Homo sapiens: one gene and its partner. The protein of the gene in region 1 purifies or fractionates together with the protein of each later gene. This does not show direct contact. Each region holds a gene or a part of one and is shown in the gene's direction. Other genes may lie near its edges. The genes, in order: PTPRJ and P2RY8.

Region 1 (3,838 bases):
GTTTGAGACCAGCCTGGATGACAAAGTGAGACCTTGTCTATACAAAAAATTAGCTGGGCATGGTGGTGTGGACCTGTGGTCCCACCTACTTGAGAGGCTGAGTTGGGAGGATGGCTTGAGCCCTGGGAGGTTGAAGCTGCGGTGAACCTTGATAGCGCCACTGCACTCCAACCCAGGCAACAGAGTGAGACCCTGTCTCAAAAAGAAAAAAAATAAAAAATAATTTATTTTAGGGGGTCTTAGTAAAGAAAGACCCCCAAAAGTCCATGATTTTATAGGTCGAATGAGGTGAAAAGTGGTATCATGATAAATAAATTTGTTTAAATATCATAAAAAGTTGGTCTAAAGAAAAACATTGGGTAAATAATTATGTGAGTATGATGTGGTTATGACCAAATTGTAAAGATGATCAGTTTCTTAAGTCTGGGGGACAGGCACTGAGCAGAGGCCGTGGTGGGGAACAGGAGCCTGTCTTCATGGCTCTTACTGGCCACTGGGCAAGACTCAGATAGCACCAACCAACCAGTCACAGTTGTGATGTAGGATGTGACTGTGAATGACATCCCTGCTGCCCGCTTCAGAGAAAGGGCTGCCACTTGCCAGAGAAGGAATGGTGATAATGAGGGACAGCCAGTCCCTAAGTGGAGATCCCTGAAAGTGGTGAATATCTTAGACCAGAGAAGCCCAGAGCAGTTTTTTTACCACCTTGTATGGCTGGTTTTCCAGTGGCTTTACTGGTGCCCCCTCGGAGGACAGGGGCTGTAGGAAGTTTGTTATTACTTCCTTATTAGTGACAGCTGCAGTCATCCTATTGTCTCAGAATTTCCCTGGCATGTAAATGGTAGGATAAGGGGTGGTGGTAAGCAGATGGGGGGCATTTTGAAAACGAGGCAGTGTCAGCTCCCACAGAAGGTCTAATTTTAAACATGCAAATAATTTTCAGTTCCACTTTTCCTTCTTCCTGTTAGAGGGAAGTTGTCCCCTGTTGCCATTTCTGAAACTTGGGCGGACAATGTCGTTATTGTGTTACAAACGATTTGCGTCTCCAGGGCAGGAGTTGGGTGATATTTTTCTGGGAGCCTGTGCCAGGGCGTAGCCCAGTGTTATCTCATGGTTTCTGAGTGAATGAGTGAGTGAGTATTAAAACTTCATATCAACATGGAGCCTATAACACAGTGGTTCTGAATCTTTCTTGGGGGGGAAAAGAAGAGATACAAGACCCCTAGAGAGTATAGAGAGTATGTAAAAGGGAAGAATCCTTCCCCAAAAGGGAATGCACATATTTACAATATTGTATCCAATTTCAGAAGGTTTTTTTAAAATTTTTAATTTTATTGTTTTTTTTTTGAGACACGGTCTCAGTTTGTACCCCAGCGTGGAGTGCAGTGGCATGATCTTGGATCTCGGCTCACTGCAGCCTCTGCCTCCTGACCTCAGGTGATCCACCCACCTCGGCCTCCCACAGTGCTGGGATTACAGGTGTGAGCCACCATGCCTGACCATGACTAGTGTTTTGATGTGTGGATTTACTACAATTTATTTGACCATTCTCCTATCAATGGACACTTTAGTTGTTTTAGTACACCTCCCTGTCCCGTCACAAATCATACTTTGTAATGTTTCTGGTGGATATTTCTTGTAACCTTCACAAGTTTATCTGTAGAGTAAATTTCTAGTTTCAGGATTACTGGATTGGAAGATGCATGCATTTAAAAGTGTGATTGCTGTTGTCAGGTTGTCCTCCAAAAGTGTCCCCTCAGTTTGTACCTGTATCCATAGGTTTGGAGAGTGTCTGTTTCTCCATACCGTCTCATCTGAAATGAAAATTTTTACATGTTTGCTAGTCTGAAAGGTGAAAAATTGTATCTTGTTTTTTTTTTTTTTTTTTTTTTTTTTGAGACGGAGTCTTGCTCTGTTGCCCAGGCTGGAGTGCAGTGGCGCTGGGCTCACTGCAAGCTCCGCCTCCCAGGTTCATGCCATTCTCCTGCCTCAGCCTCCCGAGTAGCTGGGACTACAGGCGCCCGCCACCAAGCCCAGCTAATTTTTTGTATTTTTAGTAGAGACGAGGTTTCACCGTGTTAGCCAGGATGGTCTCGATCTCCTGACCTTGTGATCCGCCCGCCTCGGCCTCCCAAAGTGCTGGGATTACAGGTGTGAGCCACCGCGCCTGGCCGTATCTTGTTATTTTTATTTATATCTTTAATTTTGAGTTAGTTGAGTTTTTTGGTCATTTGCCTCTGCTTCTTCTTCTTTTTTTGTTTTCTTTTTTTTTTTGAGACAGAGTTTTGCTCTTGTTGTTCAGGCTGGAGTGCAATGGCGTGATCTTGGCTCACTGCAACCTCCACCTCCCAGGTTCAAGTGATTCTCCTGCCTCAGCTTTCTGAGTAGCTGGGATTACAGGCGTGTGCCACCACGCCCAGCTAATTTTTTGTATTTTTAGTAGAGATGGGACTTGTTCCTTAGGAACCATGTTGGCCAGGCTGGTCTTGAACTCCTGATCTCAGGTGACCCACCTGCCTCGGCCTCCCAAAGTGCTGAGATTACAGGCGTGAGCCACTGTGCCAGGCCCCATTTTTTGTTTTTTGGTTAACTCCCTGTTCATTAAAAAAAAAAAATCTATATCTATAGATAGATAGATATAGATATAATCTTTGTTATCAATTTGTATAAGCTCTTTGGAAATTAGTCCTTCGATTGTCATTTGTATTGCAAACACATTCCCCCTCCCCCATGCCAATTATTTTAGATGTAGCACTTGTTCCTTAGGAACTCAGAGATAAATAAGACCCTAGGGTGGTGAAGAGAGCATAGAATTTGGAACAAGACTCCTTTGTTGGAGTCTTGGCTCTACCACCTCATTAGCTGTGTGATCTTGGGCAGGTATCTTGACCTTTCTGATCCTTGCTCTTCATATTCCAAAAATGCTAATAATAGGAGTACCTCTGACACAGGGTAGTTGGAGAAGCTAAGTGTGATCATATTATGCTAAAATTCCTTGTAAATGGCTATGGAAACATAAACACAGCATTTTATAAAATACCACGAGGTATTCCATTTACTGAAGAGTTACATCAGAAGAGTATTTCTGATTGTGCCACTGCACTCCAGCCTGGGCGACAGACTGAGATTCCATCTCAAAAAACAAACAAACAAAAAACTAGCCAGTCATTTATAAGAATGAGTTACAGCTATAGGTGCAGGCGGTAAATACTCTCCAAGATATCTAAATAAATTAAAAGGCTATGTAGAGAACAATGTATATATAATGTTACCTTTAAAGTGACAAAAAAAGGTGAATATAGATACTTGTGTATCAGAAGAGAGAGGTATTCCATTTACTGAAGAGTTAGGGCAAAGACCATAATATTGTAATTATCAATAATTATGAATTGTCAAAATTATGTCATGAAACCTCTTTTTTTCTTTTTTTTGAGGGGGAGTCTTGCTCTGTCACCCAGGCTGGATTGCAGTGGTGTGATCCTGGTTCACTGCAACCTTTGCCTCTGAGGTTCAAGTGATTCTTCTGCCTCAGCCTGGGATTACAAGCATGCGCCACCATGCCTGGCTAATTTTTGTAGTTTTAGTAGTGACAGGGTTTCATCATGTTGGCCAGGCTGGTCTGGAACTGCTGACCTCAAGTGATCTGCCTGCCTTGGCCTCCCAAAGTGTTGGGATTTTTTTTTTTTTTTTTTTGGAGACGGAGTCTCACCCAGTCACCCAGGCTGGAGTTCAGTGGCGCAATCTTGGCTCACTGCAAGCTCCACCTCCCGGGTTCACGCCGTTCTCCTGCCTCAGCCTGGCTGGGACTATAGGCGCCCGCCACTATGCCTGGCTAATT
Region 2 (3,838 bases), on another chromosome or scaffold:
GTGTGTGTATATATATATGTATTACATATATAATTATATAAATAATTATATATAAATAATATATAATATATAAATAGTAAGTATATAAATATATATGTAAATATATATAAATATATAATATATGTAAATATATTGTATATAAATATATATGTAAATATATATAAATATATAATATATGTAAATATATTATATATAAATATATATGTAAATATATTATATATAAATAATATACAAATATATATGTAAATAATAAATAGATAAGTATATAATATATGTAAATATGTAATATATAAATAATATATAAATATATAATATATTTAAGTTATAAATATATAACTATGTAATATGTAAATAATAAATAATATATGAATATATAATATATTTAAATAATACATATATAAGTATATAATATATAAATAATAAATAATATATAAATACATAATATATTTAAATAAATATAAGTATATAATATATAAATAATAAATAATATATGAATATATAGTATATTTAAATAATAAATATATAAGTATATAATATATAAATAATAAATAATATATGAATAATATATTTAAATAATGAATATATAAGTATATAATATATAAATAATATATAAATATAAAATATATTTAAATAATAAATATGTAAATAATAAATATGTAAATAATAATATATAAATATATAATATATTTAAATAATAAATATATAAGTATATAATATATTTAAATAATAAATATATAAGTATATAATATATAAATAATAAATAAAATATAAATATACAATACATTTAAATAATAAATATATAAGTATATAAGATATAAAGAATAAATAATATATAAATATACAATATATTTAAATAATAAATATATAAATATATAATATATAAATAATAAAAAATACATAAATATATGTTTAAATAATAAATATGTAAATATGTAATATATGAATATATATATATTATTTTTGGCAATCTCTTTTATTTGCCTCAAGAAAGCACACTCCTCAGAAGATTTTTTCAGAAGCTGATGTGTGTTTTTGTTGGTTTGTTTTACACTTTTTACTTCCATAGGTTTTGGGGAAACACGTGCCATTTGGTTACACGAGGAAGTTCTTTAGTGGTGATGTGTGAGATTTCAGGGTATCCGTCACCCAAGCAGTATACACTGAACCCGGTTTGTGGCCTTTTATCCCTCATCCTCTCCCCAATCTTTGCCCTGGAGTTCCCAAAGTCCTTTGTGTCATTCCTTTTTTTTTCTTTTTTCTTTCTTTCGTTTTTTTTTTTTTTTTTTTTTTTGAGACAGAGTTTCACTCTGTTGCCCAGGCTGGAGAGCAGTGGCGCGATCTCGGCTCACTGCAACCTCCTTCTCCCGGATTCAAGCGATTCTCCTGCCTCAGCCTCCTCCTGAGTAACTGGGATTACACGCATGTGCCACCACACCCGGTTAATTTTTGTATTTTTAGTAGAGACGGGGTTTCACCATATTGGCCAGGCTGGTCTCAAACTCCTGACCTTGTGATCTGCCCACCTCGACCTCCCAAAGTGCTGGGATGACAGGTGTGAGCCACCGCATCCGGCCGTTGTGGCATTCTTATGCCTTTGCATCCTCATAGCTTAGCTCTCACTTATGAGTGAGAACATACGATGTTTGGGTTTCCATTCCTGAGTTACTTCACTTAGAATAATAGTCTCCAATCTCATCCAGGCCACTCCAAATGCTATTCTTTTTCATGACTGAGTAGTATTCCATCATAAGTATATGTATATATATATACACATCATATACATCTATACATATATGTGTATATATACACATATACATCTATACATATATGTGTATATATACACATATACATATATACATATATGTGTATATATACACATCATATACATATATACATATATGTGCATATACACACATCATATACGTATATGTGTATATATACACATCATATACATATATGTGTATATATACGTGTGTGTATATATATGGCACACATATATATGACATATATGTGTGTGTGTTTGTGTGTGTGTCAGTGCCGGCATTTATATATATAAATACACCACAGTTTCTTTATCCACCTGTTGATTGATGGGCATTTGGGTTGGTTCCACATTTTTGCAATTGCAAATTGTGCTGCTATAAACATGCCTGTGCAAGTATCTTTTTCGTATAATGAGTTACTTTCCTCTAAGTATCTTTTTCATATAATGAGTTACTTTCCTCTACCTAGATACCCAGCAGTGGGATTGCTGGATCAAATGGTAGTTCTACATTTAGCTCTTTAAGGACTCTCCACACTGTCTTCTATAGTGGCTGTACTAGTTTACGTTCCCACCAGCAGTGCAGACGTGTTCCCTGTTCGCCACATCCACACTAGCATTTGCTATTTCTTGATGTTTTGATTGTGGCCATTCTTGCAGGAGTGAGGTGATGTCACATTCTGCTTTTGATTTGCATTTCCCTGATCATTCGTGATGTTGAGCGTGTTTTCATGCCGCTGAGCCGGGCTGGGACCTTGAGGACTGCGTTGATGCTTTTGTGCAGAGTGCCCTGCTCCAGGGGAAAGGTGCTGGTGCCCTGAGCAGAGGGACTTTGTGGAAGCAGGATGTGTGATTTTCTAGCCAAGAAGGTCTCCATGGGAGGGAGGAGTCCTATGAGACTCTCCATGGCTGGGCAGGGAGTGGCACAGACAGAAGCAGGTGGCAGGTGCCAGGCTGTGTTGGTTTCGGATGATGAGTTGGTGGAATGGCAATGTGCTGTCCAGGCTCCCCAGGAGTTCATGAGCTGGGGGTGGGCTGAGCATGCTAACCCCTCGGGCTGGGCACAGTCAGGCTGGGAGGGGGCCTGGACATTGTTTACGGGGGACCCTGTAAGCAGGGGGACCCCTGATGGAGAGGGCATGCAGGAAGATGGGGCAAGGACAGATCTTGGGATAGAACCATTCATGAGACACAAAAGGCACAGGCTGTCTGCTGGAGCACTAGTGACATTTGGGGCGGGGGAATTCCCTGTGGTGGGGCCATCCTGGGGATTGTAGGGTGTAGAGCAGCGTCCCTGGGCTCCAGCCACAAGGTGCCAGGAGCACCCACAGTTGTGACAATCAGAAATGTCTCCAGATATTACTCAATGTCTCCAGGTAGCAAAATCACTTGCTCATCTATCACTGTCTTAAAGATAGATGGGTGACAAATTAGATAGATAGATAGATAGATAGATAGATAGACAGACAGACAGACAGATAGATAGAATCGATAAATAGATACATAGAATAGATAGATATATACATACATACATAAATTAGATAGGTACATACATACATACATACATGGATAAATAGATTAGATAGATAGATACATAGATACATGCATAGATTAGATAGATAGATGATAGATTAAAGAGATATATAGATAGATGAGAGATAGAATAGACAATACATACATAGATATAGATAGATAATGGTGATGATAGACAGATAGATATATAGATAATAGAGATAGATAGAAAAGATACATACGTAAATTAGATAGATATATACATACATAGATTAGATAGATACATACATACATGGATAAATAGATTAGATAGATAGATATATAGATGCATAGATTAAATAGATGATAGATTAGAGAGATACATAGATAGATGAGAGATAGATAGATAGGATAGATAGATACACACATACATATAGATAGATAATGGTGATGATAGAGAGATAGATCAATCAGATAGATAGATACATAGATAGAATAGATACATACATATGTACGTACATAAATTAGATACATATATACATACATACATAGATTAGATAGGTAGATACATACATACATACATGG

The links.
Region 2: the proteins of PTPRJ (region 1) and P2RY8 purify together in Homo sapiens (co-immunoprecipitation; one large-scale study listed by IntAct). This does not show direct contact.

What each region holds. Positions count from the first base shown.
Region 1 is NC_000011.10:47,987,010-47,990,847, forward strand, and holds part of PTPRJ (receptor-type tyrosine-protein phosphatase eta isoform 1 precursor), read left to right. Parts: intron 1-3,838. UniProt on the Homo sapiens protein: Tyrosine phosphatase which dephosphorylates or contributes to the dephosphorylation of CTNND1, FLT3, PDGFRB, MET, KDR, LYN, SRC, MAPK1, MAPK3, EGFR, TJP1, OCLN, PIK3R1 and PIK3R2. Plays a role in cell adhesion, migration, proliferation and differentiation.
Region 2 is NC_000023.11:1,530,456-1,534,293, reverse strand, and holds part of P2RY8 (S-geranylgeranyl-glutathione receptor P2RY8), read left to right. Parts: intron 1-3,838. UniProt on the Homo sapiens protein: G protein-coupled receptor for S-geranylgeranyl-glutathione (GGG), an endogenous metabolite present in lymphoid tissues.